2 linked regions of the Homo sapiens genome follow. The protein of the gene in region 2 interacts with the protein of the main gene of each other region in a pairwise test. Each region holds a gene or a part of one and is shown on either strand. Other genes may lie near its edges.

Region 1 (7,031 bases), on a different chromosome or scaffold from region 2:
GGGATCAGTCAGAGGAAAGCATGCCAAATGGGAACACAGGTTCTCAATCTGGTCCGTGGATTTGACTTGTAGCTTGGCTTTCAAGCTTTTAAACTGTCTTCGGCTTGGAGGTGGGGTTTCACTGGGGATGTGCCCCTGTCTGCCTAGGCATTTGTCTGTCTCCTGCCTCTATCATAGTAGTCATTGGCAGACAGTTTTCCTTCCTTGAAGACAGGATACCATAAGTAAGCATTATGCCATAGCTTAATTGGCAGTTTTTTTCCTAGTGTTACATGAAATAATGCATTTTATAATCACAGACATCTTAGATTTAATGAAATTTGGTAAAATTAATAGAATTTTAGCTCAGGTGGCACACACCTGTAGTCCCAACTACTTGGGAGTCTGAGGCAGGAGGATCACTTGAGTTCAAACCAGCCCAGGCAACATAGTAAAATCCTGGCTGCCTATCCCCCATAAAGAGACTTTTGTACCCAACTAATTCCTTGTAATTGTAACCAATAAATTTTCCTAATTCGTTTTCCTGCTCTGGAAAATGTTTGTTACTGAAAAGAAGCCTATCGAGCGTGATATTTTTCCTTATGTAAATGGAAATTAACAAATAAAATGTTCATTTTACAAATTTTAAAGGATGATTAAGTGATAGGTCTACTTTTTGGAAATTATACTTGGTAATCTGTTACTTTGTATGGTAACAGGTTTACAAATGCCTTTATTCCTAATTTACTTTTTTTTTTGAGACAGGGTCTCACTCTGTCACCCAGGCTTGAGTGCAATGGCATAATCTGATCTCGGGTCACTGCAACCTCCGCCTCCTGGGTTCAAATGATTCTTGTGTCTCAGCCTCCTGAGTAGCTGGGACTACAGCTCGTGCCACCATGCCCGACTAATTTTTGTACTTTTTGGTAGAGACAGGGTTTCGCCATGTTGGCCAGGCTGGTCTTGAACTCCTGACCTCAGGTGATCCGACTGCCTTGGCCTCCCAAAGTGCGTGATTACAGGCATGAGAGCCACTGCACCTGGCTGATTGCCATTTTCTTAAGTTTAAAATGTTTAGGGTGAGTTGCTCCCCTTTTTTTCTATGCATGATATTGTTGACATGGTATAATTAATTTTTCAGTACATCTTAGTCAATTATAATTTAAAATCCACTCAACCATCTTCCTCTAAAAATACAAGGCTTTCACCTTTATAGTCCTTATGGTTTAGTCTTTTTTGCGAAGAGGATTTGAGGAAGGAAGACCAGGAAAACAAAATCCAGTGTTTGGGCATTTGGTTGTGGGAGGAGCCCAGAAATGCTACAAAAATCTAAACACATTTAAGTTACTTAGATTGTACTTATTTTGAATAGATGATCAAAAGCAACTCTGCAGGTCAAGTGAAGGTCACTTGCTGAGCATTATTGATTTGATAAATGATTGAGAAGTGAAGGCATATACTGCTTTGAAAGTAAACTAGGTGTAAGAAATGGATTAAGTCCATGTTCATCTTCTCTGTTGGAAAGGCACCATAATAATAGTGTCTCCAAAGCTTTGTCATAGTTTTCATCTTGATAAAAGTTTAGTTTTTTTTTTTCTTTCTACTTTGTTCTGTTTTGCTTTTGAGATAGGGTCTTGCTCTGTCACCTGGGCTGGAGTGTAGTGGGATGGTCATAACTCACTGCAGCCCCAAACTCCTGGGCTCAAGCAACCCTCCCCCACCCAGCCTCCCAAGTAGCTGGGACTACAGGCATGCACCACCACGCCCAGCTAATTTTTGTATTTTTTGTGGAGGTGGGGGTCTCCCTATGTTTTCCAGGCTGGTCTTAGACTCCTGGACTCAAGCATTTCTCCCACCTTGGCCTCCCAACATGTTGAGATTATAGGCGTGAGCCACCATGCCCAGCACCCAGCTAATTAAAAAAAAATTTTTTTGTAGAGAAAAGGTTTTGCTATGTTAACCAAGCAGGTCTCAAATGAGCCTCCCGCTTCAGCCTCCCAAAGTACTGGGATTACAGGTGTGAGCCCCGCATCTGGCCTAATTTTTTTGGGGGGGGAGTGTTCACTCTTATTGCCCAGGCTGGATCCAGCGCAATGGCGCGATCTTGGCTCACTGCAACCTCCACCTCCCGGGTTCAAGCGATTCTCCTGCCTCAGCCCCCGAGTAGCTGGGATTACAGGCATGCACCACCATGCCCGGCTAATTTTTTATTTTTGGCAGAGACAGGGTTTCTCCATGTTGGTCAGGCTAGTTTCGAACTTCCGACCTCAGTTGATCCACCCGCCTCGGCCTCCCAAAGTGCTGGGATTACAGGCGTGAGCCACTGTGCCTAGCTGGACTAATTTTTTTCATTAAGAAAGAAGTTTCTTGGCCAGGCCCAGCATTTTGGGAGGCTGAGGTAGGCAGATCACAAGGTCAGTAGCTTGAGACTAGCCTGGCTAATATGATGAAACCCAGTCTTTACTAAAAATTAAAAAAAATGGCCTGGCGCAGTGGCTCACGCCTGTAATCCCAGCACTTTGGGAGGCCGAGACGGACAGATCATGAGGTCAGGAGATCGAGACCATCCTGACTAACAAGGTGAAACCCCGTCTCTACTAAAAATACAAAAAATTAGCCAGGTGTGGTGGCGGGCGCCCGTAGTCCCAGCTACTTGGGAGGCTAAGGCAGGAGAATGGCATGAACCCGGGAGGCAGAGCTTGCAGTGAGCCGAGATCGCACCACTGCACTCCAGCCTGGGCAACAGAGCAAGACTCATTTCAAAAAAAAAAAAAAAAATTAGCTGGGCATGGTGGTGCACGCCTGTAATCCCAGCTATTCGGGAGGCTGAGGCAGGAGGATTGCTTGAACTGGAGGTTGCAGTGAGCTGAGATTGTGCCACTGCACTCCAGCCTGGGTAACAGAGTGAGACTCTGCCTGAAAAAAAAAAAAAAGTTTCTTGATCTGTCAGGGGTAAAAGACATGTTTAAAAGTTGTTTATGCTACACATCAGTTGGGATTGGAAAGAAAAGAAAACTTTTTTTTTTTTTTGAGATAGAGTTTTGCTCTTGTTGCCCAGACTGGAGTACAGTGGTGCGATCTTGGCTCACTGCAACCTCTGCCTCCCAGGTTCAAGCGATTCTTCTGCCTCAGCCTCCCGAGTAGCTGGGATTACAGGCATGTGTCACCACGCCCCACCAATTTTTTGTATTTTTAGTAGAGACGGCTTTTCTCCATGTTGGTCAGGCTGGTCTCAAACTCCTGACCTCAGGTGATCCACCTGCCTTGGCCTCCCAAAGTGCTGGGAGTACAGGCTGAGAAGCAGGGGCTGGCATGCCCATGCCCTGTTTTACATTTTTTGTAAATCTCTTTAATATGTAGTTTAATAGAAGACAGCTGGATTCCATTAAATGCTTCTGCATTCATTTTGCCGTGATACACTATTTTGATTAAAATATACCAAAAAACTCCAGCATCACACAAATATGTAGTTGGAAAGGGAGGATTATTTCAGTAGATTTTTCAGATAATTTTGGATATTCTTACTCTGATACTGTACCAAAACTCCACAAGTGGTATTTTCTTAAGTGATTAGTGCAATGTGGAATCTGAAATTATGTCAATGAACTTTTCATATTCTGTTGCATTAAAATACATTAGCTTATGTTTTGTACCTTGAATGAATTTTTACCCATACCTTGTTTTATAGCATTATTGTTACATGGCTACATGGTCATTTGGAAAATACTGATTTCAGAGTTATGCAGATCTTCCAAACGTTGACTCATTTATTATACAATGTAAAAAAATCACATTTCATTAATATCACCAATGATCTGTCAGAAGAATTTGAGCATGTGGGAAGCTGTCAAGCTCACAGTGACAGATACAAGTTTTCCAAAATACTAATTTTCACCTGAATTCTCAAACTTTTTTATTGGCAATAAGTAGTACTAAGTTATCTTATTTAAAATAACAGGCTTGTTTCATTCATTTTTTCATTCATTTTCAAGAAAATGGTAAATACTTCTAAATAACCATAGTTTGTCATTCGTTCTTTCAAGTAAAAATAGTGTCCCATGAGAAAAGCAATTAGTTGAGCCACCTCAAAAACTGCACAAGTGCTTTTTCTTGAGGCAACTTGTATTTCAGAATGCAGGAGGAAAACTTCAGGTGTACTTCCCATTTTATCACACATATTGAAAACAGGTACTCAAGAGTTGAGACTTAATAACAGATGTAGGGAAGGGGAGGCTGGGTCTCCATTGGAGTGAGCATTTGGTTAGTAGTAGCTGTGTTCAGCACAGATGTTTGGCATTCTGACCTGATTGTTCCTGCTGCCTAGCTTAATTTCTTCCCAGTTCAATCTTACGTATCCAGCCTTCCCATCAATTCCATGATCAAACTAATAGCCTTTCAGTAAATTACTTTTATGTTTAGGATCAATTTTTGTTGCTGCAACCAATGACTCTGGCTGATGTGCTGCTTAAACTTAAGAAAAAAACCCTAAAATACTTTTTAAGAAAGTAATCTCAAAAGTGATGATAGCCTTTAGTTCAAAAGTATGTGCCTCATGGTTAACCTTTCTGATGACTTGTAATTATTAACATCAGTTATGAGCAGTCACTATCCAATACCTACCTTTCTAGCCATACTATTTTCCAGCCAAATCGAATACATTGCTTTACCCACCTCAACCCCTTCTCCACCTTTACCTCTGTCTAGGGGTTTGTCCAAATCCAACCAAGACCTAGCTCTGTTGTCAACGCTACCATGAAGCTAGAAATAACCTTTGCCTTCTCCAAACCATTGAGAGGTTCTTTCACCTCTTATGTGGCACTTAGTGCCTTCCACTTTGTAATATCGTTATTCATGTATATCTTATTTCCACTAAATACCTGTGACAGTTAGTACTGTCCCATACAAATCTATGCTCCACAGCGCTTAACCTTGAACAAGTAAGCACTTTAAAACATTAGATGATGCTGGCATGGTGGCTCACACTTGTAATCTCAGCACTTTGGGAGGCCAAGGTAGGAGGAATACCTGAGCCCAGGAGTTCGAGACCAGCCAGAGCAACATAGTGAGACCCGTCTCTACAAAGAATAAAAAATTAGCTGGGCATGGTGACGTGCCTGTAGTACCAGTATTTGGGAGGCTGTGGTGGGAGAGTCACTTGAGCTAGGGAAGTGGAGGCTACAGTGAGCTGTGATTGCACCACCACACTCCAGCCTGGGTGGCAAAGCAAGACTCTGTCTCAAAAACAAAACAAAACAAAAAACATATTACATGAATGAACTTGTATACAAAAAATACACAAGTACCTTTATGGGCTGTTGAGGTCCCTTGAGCTGTATACTACCTAGCTCCAAGCTGCTGGGCCTCTTTTCCCCCTTAGTGGGTCAGCTGTCTCTTTCTGCAGCTATCAGCTTAACTTCATTTAAGCAGCCACTCCTTGCTCTCATTCTGGAGTTGCTGCTTCAGTTAGTTAGGGAACTAGAAAAACTTGAATTTTGTTTCGAACAAAAGACTGTGTGAGGGCTTAAGGGACTTTCCTATGAGAAAATCTTTCATCCATAGTCTTTGATCTTTATTTTGGATATTCTGAGACTTTTTCTTCTGGTTTTTGGCTGATTTTAGAGATAGTTGTGATTCTCAGAAAAGTGATTTTTGGGTAATACATTATACTTCATCCATATATAGCAAAAGTTTATTCAGCAAATAATTTACTGAGTATTTTATGTCAGGCACTTTGAGAGAGAGAAAATACAGTTCCTGCCCTCAATAAGCTGTTTTAGTAGAAAAAGCATTTGAGCTTGTACTAGGAACCTAAGTAGGGCACTAATACCTTTTCTTATTCAAACTGAGTTACAGAGCTCTAGGTCAATTCATCCCTAGGGATTTTGGCCTGGAAAACAAGGTGGCAATGTGGAGAGAATTGGAGAGTTAGGTGAGATGGTCAGGGCTTCCAGCTCGCCTTCCTCAGTCATGCTCATCTTTAGTCACTAGTGGAATTTTCCTGTTTTATAGAACTAATCTGTTCAGTTTCTGAGCCAACCCTGACAGAGCAGAACCAGAGATATTATGACATTAGTCATGCTGACAGGTCTGGTTTCTTGGGGTTAACCCAGGCATCATTGTGCCCACCTAGTTCCAGCCTTCCCCTACTCCCACTTTGCTGGTCAAATTAGAACAATGGATGGATGTTCCAGTACTCCGCTCTGTCTGACTTGGAGCCCTGTCAAAATTCCTAGCCTGGGCCAGGTGGGTGGGTGGCTCACGGCTGTAATCCCAGCACTTTGGGAGGCTGAGGCAGGTGGATTGATTGAGCCCAGGAGTTTGAAACCAGCCTGGGCAACATGGCAAAACCCCCTATCTACAAAAAATACAAAAATTAGCCAGGCATGGTGACACGCACCTGTAGTCCCAGCTACCCAGGAGGCTGAGGTGGGAGGATCACCTTGAGCCTGGGAGGTCAAGGCTGCAGTGAACCGTGATCAGGCCACTGTACTCCAGCCTGAGTGAGAGAGTGAGATCCTGCCTCAAAAAAAGAAAAAAAAAAAAATCCTAGCCTGCACTTCCGGAGCCTGTGGTAGGAGGATTGCTTGAGCGCTGGAGTTCAAAAGCAGCCTGGGCATATTGAGACCCCACCTGTATTTAAAAAAAAAAAATCCTAGCCTACTTGAGTGGGTCCTTGCTTTGTTCTGCTCTCTGACTTTTGTTTTCATCTATATCGTCTCTACAAGTGGAGGAAATGTTCTGTCTAGTTATTTTTCTGCTGATGAAATGGGAGAGTTCTCTGAACCCCCCTCGCAGGACGTGTGACAATGATGTGGCTCGTCTGTTTGGCTGCCACCACTGCTAAAACCCTTTACAGGAGGAGGAGCACAGAGACAGGCAGGGGCAGGAGCTGGGGCAAGCTCTTTTAGGCTCTGGCCCCACGGTGGCATCTAGGGGTGGGTGCCTGCAGCTCCCGAAGCCCCATTGGGCATGCTACAGTGCTCTTTTAGCTTGCCATATGCAGATGGGTTAAGTGTTAACCAGCTCAGTACCTTCTTGGTATTTGGGTTCTT
Region 2 (7,989 bases):
CACGAGTTTACTCAGCACAAGGAGGGGGAAGAGGCCAGGGCGGGCACACCCCATGCCAGGGTCCTATCCATCTGCCTGTCCCCACCTTCCTCCCCCACTGTTCTCTCCCGCCCTAGGCCAAAACAGGCATAGGCCCTAAGGCCTGGTGTCAGGGCAGTCTTAACTCTCAGGAAGGTCAGGGAGCCAAGCGGGGCAGAGGCAGGAAGCCCCGCAGCAGGCCCAGAGGCTTCTGTCAGAGGGCAGTGCCCTGCCTGGAGCCCATTCACTACTCATCTTGGGGCCTTGGTCTTGGGCCAGAAGAATTGGGTCTCTCAGCCATTAAGAAGGGGGCAGTACCAGGCCAAACCTTCTCCATCTGAGCAGTCCCCTGGGCAGTGACTTCTGACCCCAAATGCCCAGTCCTAGGCTGTCCCTCAGTCTGATGCCATCCAGGCAGCCATAGGATCAGGGGCTGGTTCTCTCAGCCTTGGCTTGGAATGGGGGGCTGGCACCCTATCTGACCTACTTCCCTTTCCTCCCCACCTGCTTTCATTTGCTTCTCTCCCCCAGCCTTCACTGTCCCCACCCCAGAGCGCTCCGCCCCCCATGCCTGCTGGGCCCCCTCCCCCACCCTTCCCCAGGGTGCCAAGTGCAGGCACACAAAGGGCCTGATGGTGCATTGTTAGCCCAGCCCCCGCTGCCCGCCGCACCCTCCCTGGGCAGGCACTAGGCCAAGGAGGAGCTGGGGGCCCTGGGTGCCAGGGGGCACCATGGGGAAGAAGAAGGGGACAGCACCTGTCTTCCAGACACTGGGGTCTACATCAGCCAGAACTGAGTAGTGATGAGAGTCCCATTAGAGCAAGCCTGTCTCCTTGACACCTGAGCCTAGTGGGCACTGCCTTCTTTCTTCCCCAGAGCCCCATTCTGGTGGTATTAACCCCTTTTTGACCCCTGTGCCAGGGCTGGGGGTGTGTGGTACCCAAGGGAGGGGACAGTGTCTGGGGGTGCCAGCAGGTTGTGTTGTGCCCACAGCAACCATGTAACAGAGGCACGCTGGGGGAGCTGGGGTCCCTGGGGCCAGGGACAGAGGCACTGACAGAGATTTCTCCTTGTTTCATCAGCTGCTCCAGGGGGAGCCCCCTACCCTTCTCCCCAGTTACCACTAAGGAGGAACACTAACTATCATCCAGACATAGTCACACATATGTCCCTCTCTAGCGCAGCACAACACTCCTTATGCCCACTCTCTCCTCCCCAACCTGATGTCCACTCCATGCCAGCTCTCCCAGCAGTGCCAGGCGGGTACAGGGGTGACCAAACCAGTTGGTGTGTGTGGGGCAGCAGGAGGCAACCCCATAATCCTCCAGGCCTCATCCCCACACTCACACATACTCCCTTAGGGACCAGACAGTTCCCATCCTGCTTTAACCCCTCACAGCCCAATCTGGTTCCCCCGTCCCTGATAAGCGGTCTCCCTCCTCCAGGAATAAGTTGGGGGAAGGGGGAATAGCTGCGCTGACTCATTCCCATTCTCGGCTGCAGCTAGGGGTCTCCAAGGCATTCGGGCGGGGGTCAATTCAAGAACACCCTCCACCTGGCCCGGAAGCCTGGACAGCCTGCCGGTCTCCCCCTCTCCCCAGCACCCACTTCCGGTGTCCCAAACTAGGTCAGCAGCGCTCGTTTCCTGTGGGTCAGCTAGCACCGGCGCCTCTGCCCCTCCCCTGCTCCGGACCCAGGCTCCCCGCCCCCCTGCCCCCCAGGGCGCCCCGAGGTCTCACCATGTCTCAGCCGCCCTTTGATACGTGGGGGTTGTGCGGGGCGGGGGGCAGGGGACCCGCCCTCTCTCTAAACACCAGCAGGGCCGGGGCGCCTGGGCAGGCACGTGTCCGGGCACAACCCGCTGCCCACGCCGCCCCCCCACTCCCGCCCCCACCTCGCTCTGGCCGGGACACGTCGCTCTCTTACTTGGGATGGGGTGGGAGGAGGGAGAGAAAGCTGGAAATTGAAAGCAGCGCCCCCCACCCCTTTGAATGGCAGCCTTCTGCCAGGCGCACTCTGTAGGTTCTACAACAACACAGTAGCGACCCCCACTCTGGGCTGGGGCAGGTGCGCCGGCGCCGGTGGGGGGACGGGTAGTAGGTAGGAGAATTCTTCCTAGTCACCCGCCCTCGCTCTTGGGTTCTGTGGTCATGAGCTGGCGTGGAAAAGGTAGCGGCGGGACTGGAGCCTGAAGGAAGGGAGTGGGATTGAGGGGCAGGGAAGAGAGCGGTCGTTCTATGTCGGTTCAGAGGTTGTTGCTGAGCCCCACTACCGCTGGAGAGAGCGCGGCTCTGGAAGCGCAAGAAACCGAATAGTCCAGCCGGTAACTTTCCCCCAAGCCGCGGCTCCTCCTGCGCCCCCCCAACCCCCATGCAACTGGCCTGGGGCCAATCCACCGCGCCAGGGGGCGCGGGGTGGGGGGGGGGTGCGCGTTGTCCTAGTTAGAGTCCGTCAGCGTTTCCATTCCCTCAACTCAGTCCGGTCTGGGGTCTCCCCCTAAAGTCACGAAGGAGACTGGGGGAACGCTCAGCGTCGCCTCACCCCCTCTCCATCCCGAAGCCGTCTGTCTGTCTGATCCCAGGAGAAGTGCAGATAAACTTTCTGGGGACCCTCCGCCTAGGGTTGGGGGGCATCCGCAGTTCCTTCTCTGTCTTTCATCTCAGTTAAAACCAATTCCAGAGACCCGGGGTGTTGGGAAAGCACAGGGAAGGGGAGTGGTGGGAATGTGATCTGCATGCGTGTGTATCTGGGGGTCCCACTTACAGGACGGACGAAGGACACTGCAGTAGTCTCGAGCCTAGTGAACCCCGAGCCAGGAGACAAAAGTGGGGTACACTCACCTCTCAGCCGTCGGGTCCGCTGGCTGGAGCTGCTGAGGCTCACAGTGTGGGAAGAAGCGCGTCCCCCACCAGGCCCGGGGGCTTGGGGCCCTGCTCCGGTCCTGGTCAGAAGGCCGCGGTCAGTTGCTCGCCGCTCGCTGCTGGGGGGCTCCTCCTCCGCCGCCCTCTGCCTCCTCCTGCCGCCCGCCCCCCCTCGGCCGCCAAGAGCCGTACATTCACCTGGCTCCCACCCGCCCCCCCCTCAGGGCCCGCCTCACCTGTCCTGCTGTCTCACCTGTCCTCCAGCTTGCTTTCCCCCCATCCCTCCCCTCCCTCCCCCCGCCCCTGCCACCCCCCAAACTCCCCCCCCCCAACACTTAGAAACACCCTCTGTCACTTCCTGGTTTTTCACCCGCCCCCCCAGGCCCCCTCCCTCCGCCCAATAAGGACATAAACTTCAACCCCTTCGTCCAGCCAGTCCCTGCAGAGCGCAGATGGGTCCCTCCCTCCTTTTTTGCCCCCTTCTCCAAACTCTTACTTAGCTCTCCTAGCCTTTCCCACCCTCCTCCTTTCCCTCCTTCTTTCCTTCTCTCTGTCTCCCTTCACCTGCCGCGGTCCCTCTCTCCCCCCCCTTTCTCCTGCCCCTATCTCTCCCAGTCCACCTTAACTCAAACTCCGCCCCCGGCCCCCATCCAGCCCTTTGCTGCTGCTCTGCCCGCCCCCTGCACGCCACCGCCCTGTCCGCTCATTGGCCTGAATACCCGCTCATCTCCAGTAGGTCTCGCCTTGCGTTCGTCCAGGGAGGGGGCGGAGCCGAGGGGCTGGCCTGGAACCTGGAGAGGAGGGGGGAGGGGGCAGTGTCCGCAGCGGCCAGGGAATCGAGCACCCCCTACAGGGGCTCCCTCTCCTTCAAGAGGGGCTTCTGTAGGGTCAGGACCTCAGGAGGGAAGGGTATGAGAGGTTAGGGATAGGCTGGGTGGGGGTGAATTGGGGACTTAGGGTCTTGAGGGAGGGGGTCCCGTGAGGGGCTGTAATCAGGTCAGGGACCTAGAAGGGAGGGGGAGGGGGAGCCACCAGGCCTTCGGCTCCGGCCCCTACGCCCCACCCCCTCTCGGAGGGAGCCGGGGAGTTGAGCCTGCGGGCGCCCTGCGTCCCTCCCCACGCGTGACGGTGCCCCGCGGGGAGGGAAGGGCGCCCCAGGCAAGCAGCCTCTGTGCTGTCGCCAGTGCCCGCTGCGGCCTTGGCATTGTCGGAGGGGAGGGGCCCAGTCTGCGAAGGGGGAGGGGGCGCGCCGACGCTTTTGCTCCCCACCTCCATCCCGCGGGTTCCCTAAGTGGAGAAACTGAGTCTCCACCGAGGAGGGATAGCTTGACATGAATTCGCTGAGAGACCCAGGTGGCGAGGGGTGCCTGGATGTTTTGGGATGTGTGGTATGTGTAGGTTTTGGGGAGGACCGGGATAAATACTTAGGAGTCCCCCAACTGAGAAAGGTAGCGGGTGAAGGATGTTTCTGACTGAGCCTGCGGAGCTGCGTACCCCAAAGGGCCCCTCCCACTAGTGTCAAATGGAATCAAATCCGGCTACCTAGGGCCAGGTTTGGCTCCCCTGCGACAAGCCAGGCCGAACCGGGTCGGACTCGCTTTCCCCTCCCAACCCCCCTCCGCAGGGGGCCTCCCTCCCTTTCCAGCAGGTGGCTTCTCGGGACACCAGCTCAACCTGTTGGACCACAATGGGCGGCGCCAGGGGGGCCCTGGCCCTCACCCGGGCTGACCCGGGATCCCCGCGCACGAGGGGCGGAGTCCAGGTCCCTCCCTCCCTCTTTCTCCCTCTCTCCCTCTCCGCGCCGGGCCGTGACTCAGCCTCGGGGCCGCTGCCCTGCGCCCCAGCCAGGGGCGGAAAGTGTGAGGCGCCCCTGAGGGCTCAGGCCAAACCAAACAGCCCCCCACCCCAGACATTATCTCACTGGAGAATTAGGGGGGCTATAGGAAGGAGGAGGTAGCGGCAGGCATGGGGCGCTCTGGCTCGAGTAATCCGCTCCGGGTTTTCCTATCGTCCCTGACCCCCTTGGGTCGCGAGGCTGATCACTGCTCCGGGTTTTCTTCTCAGCCCCGCCGGACAGATCCTGGTCCGGAGGGGCCCGGAGCCGTCCAGGCCGGGGTTTTCCCCTTCCTACTCCAGCCGTCTGGGTCGTGCAGGCCTGGTGAAGGGCTGTGCTAGGGGCTAGGCGGCAGTGCCACAAGTGAAATGGAGAGGGGGCTGCTTTGGGGAGGAAGGAGGATAGCCAAGGAAAGGGGGCGGGGGGCAGGGGGCGGGGGGCGGGGGGGGTGGGAACGTGGCCCGGGGAGGGCAGAGCCAGGGCTTCCAGAGGCAATAGAAGGGCGGGCTCCCTGGCACCAGCCTTTGGGTACAGAAACTCGAAAGGTGCCCAGTGCCTCAGGCTCGCCTCGCCCAACTTCCCCCATGTTTGAGGGTCGCGTTCTGCGTCTGGCTGAACATGACTGATCTTTCTGCGGCTAGATTGCCACTCCTCACCTCATTCCCAATGGTCCTGGAACCCGCAGTTAGTTCCTCAGTGACGCCCACCCTCCCTTGTCTCTCTTTTTCTCCTGGTGCAAATAGCTCCCCTCCTTACTCAGAAATCGGAGCGGGGAACCCCTACTTGAAATTCCCTCTTACCCCAACCCCTAACCACGCCAAACGACTGAAACAGCGGCGGCAGAGAAACGCTGACTGGGGACCCCGCCCCCTCCCATGAAACCCCTGCTGGGCCCCAGGGGCCGGCCGCCCCCGCCCCGCCACTAGGCCCAGACTGGAACTGGGAGCTGGAGGGCAAGTGAGGGGCCTGCAGGGGCCGCCTGGGGATAGGAGAGCGTCCCAGATCCGCATGTTAAGACTTAAATTTTTAGGTGACCAGCTAGACCTTAAATTTGGGGAGAGTAGCACGAGTTGGACAAATACCCAGAGAAGGAAGTGTTTACCCTAAGAGAGGAATGAAAGCCCCGAGTGGGAGGACTGAATACCTGGGGCTGGGGACAGCGACTCGGAATGACGGCCAGGTGCGCGGACTGGCCGGGCCACGTGCGCCGAAGGGTAGAAGCATAGAAGTTAGATGCTTGCAGAACCTGGGGGAATGAGGCCTTCAGGTGTTAAGAAAGGCGAGGCTTTGCCTGGGCGGGGTCCTGCGTGAGTGGGTCTGGGGGCCTGTTTCGGAATGTGGGGGGCTGAGCTGCAAGCGGAGCGTCAGCATGCGCCAGGCGCCCACCTCTTCTCCGCTGCTCCCCCCCATCCTCCGCTGCCTCCGCTTCCCTCGAAAAACCCGCCGCCCAGGAAACCGCTGGGGGCGCTCAGACCGCAGACCCCCCACGCCCCCCGCCCCCCAGCGCTCCCACCGCGACCGCCCAACCCACCTGAAGGGGCCGTGGCCGCCAGGGGTACCCCCCTCCCGCCGACTCCCCCCAACACCTGCGGGTGGCACTATTTATAACTCCGCGCCTATTCCGGGCCTCTGGGTTGGAGCCGGCTGCCGCGCAGCGCTAATCGCCGCCGGGATCTCTGCGCCCCCCAAGGCCGGGGGAGGCAAATTTAGCTTCAGGAAGCTCAGGGGAACAGTTTCCAAAACTCCACGTCCCAGAGAAGGCAAGACAACCCCTCTGCACTCAGCCTCCTTCCGATCAGCCACCAGGAGGCGCAGGTCCCCGGCTTCTCGAACCCAGCCAGCTAGGAGGTTACGGTCGCTTCTTTGAAGCTGGGGTAGGCGAAGGCCTGAGGGCGAATGATGGAAAGGAACTGAGGCCGAAGAATGGCTGGAGGAACGGGTACGCTCCAAGGCTGGCGAACACTCTAGAGTCTGAGAGTAACTGAGAAAGTTGGGTGGAGGGAAATAACTCACATGCAAGACAGATGTAAATATGATGCAAATAAGAGCCTATGCCCATGCCGGGCGCGGTGGCTCTCGCCTGTAATCTCAACACTTTGGGAGGCAGAGGCGGGTGGAACACCTGAGGTCAGGAGTTCGAGACCAGCCTAACCAACATGGTGAAACCCTGTCTCTAGTAAAAATACAAAAATTAGCCAGTCGTGGTGGCACACGCCTGTAGTCCCAGCTACTCAGGAGGCTGAAGCAGAATTGCCTGAACCTGGGAGGCGGAGGTTGCGGTGAGCCGAGATCGCGCCATTGCACTCCAGCCTGGGCAACAAGAGCCAAACCCCGTCTTTAAAAAAAAAAAAAAAAAAAAAAGCCTATGCCCTTGGGGATGGGTCTGCGCTCTGGCGCTGCCAGTGAAATGATTGCCACACACCCCTTTTTGCCGGCCTCTTGGTGTTGGGAAAACGTGGGACATCCCCACCCACCCACCCCTCCCCGCCGCCAGATTATTGCTATGATATCCAGTTTATTGCCTGCCGCTCCTCAGACCCTTGGGCCGTGACCCCTCTCCTCCAACTGTTCCTTGCATGCCAACGAGGGTCCTGTATCCGATGTAATCCGCCGGGAATCCTGGATATCAGGCTTCTCCTCTCGCTGTTGTACTTGAGGGTCACATCCAGCTGGTCCCTCCTGTCTCCATTCCTACTCCACCCATTCCCCCACCCCCTGTGACCATTAGAGGGCACCAGGGCACCGAGGGGTAGGTGAGGTTTTAATGGCAAAGGCCGCAATTACTTTTGCACCAACCTAATATCTTGGTACCCTGTCTCCTTCACCTCCCTCCCACCTTACTCCACTTGAGTTCCTGAGGGAGTAATTTGGACACTCAAAACCTGAGTTGCCCTAGTCGGGGAGAGATACTTGTGGGGGAACAGCCACAGAGTGGGGAGCCATGGGCCAGGAAAGATCTCTTGGCTGTGTGGATTAGGTGAAAGGGCTGCACCTGAAACCTCCAAATGGGCTGAGAACAGGGAGCTTAGGGCTGAGGTGGGAAGTGGCATGGAGCGGGTGCATGGAGGTGGTACCCTCCATGCTTTTGTTTGCATGGCCCTGCCTCCAGGCCACTTTGGCCACCATCTCCATGCAAACACCAGCTCAGAAGAGGAAGGCAGGCTCATTAGGAGAAGCCGTGAGTTGGGGATCTGAAAATCTGGGTTCGCTAAATGACTCCTTTACCTCAGTGTGCTGTGTATGTTCTTGGGCGAATCATTTCACCTCTTTGGGCCT

The links.
Region 1: the proteins of ZBTB7B (region 2) and ZBTB5 interact in binary tests that used the Homo sapiens proteins (3 or more experiments, as listed by UniProt).

Annotation. Positions count from the first base shown.
Region 1 is NC_000009.12:37,455,439-37,462,469, reverse strand, and holds part of ZBTB5 (zinc finger and BTB domain-containing protein 5), read left to right. Parts: intron 1-7,031. UniProt on the Homo sapiens protein: May be involved in transcriptional regulation.
Region 2 is NC_000001.11:154,997,813-155,005,801, reverse strand, and holds the start of ZBTB7B (zinc finger and BTB domain-containing protein 7B), read right to left. Parts: upstream 3,001-7,989; 5' UTR 2,960-3,000; coding exon of another isoform or gene 2,859-2,959; intron 1-2,858. UniProt on the Homo sapiens protein: Transcription regulator that acts as a key regulator of lineage commitment of immature T-cell precursors. Exerts distinct biological functions in the mammary epithelial cells and T cells in a tissue-specific manner.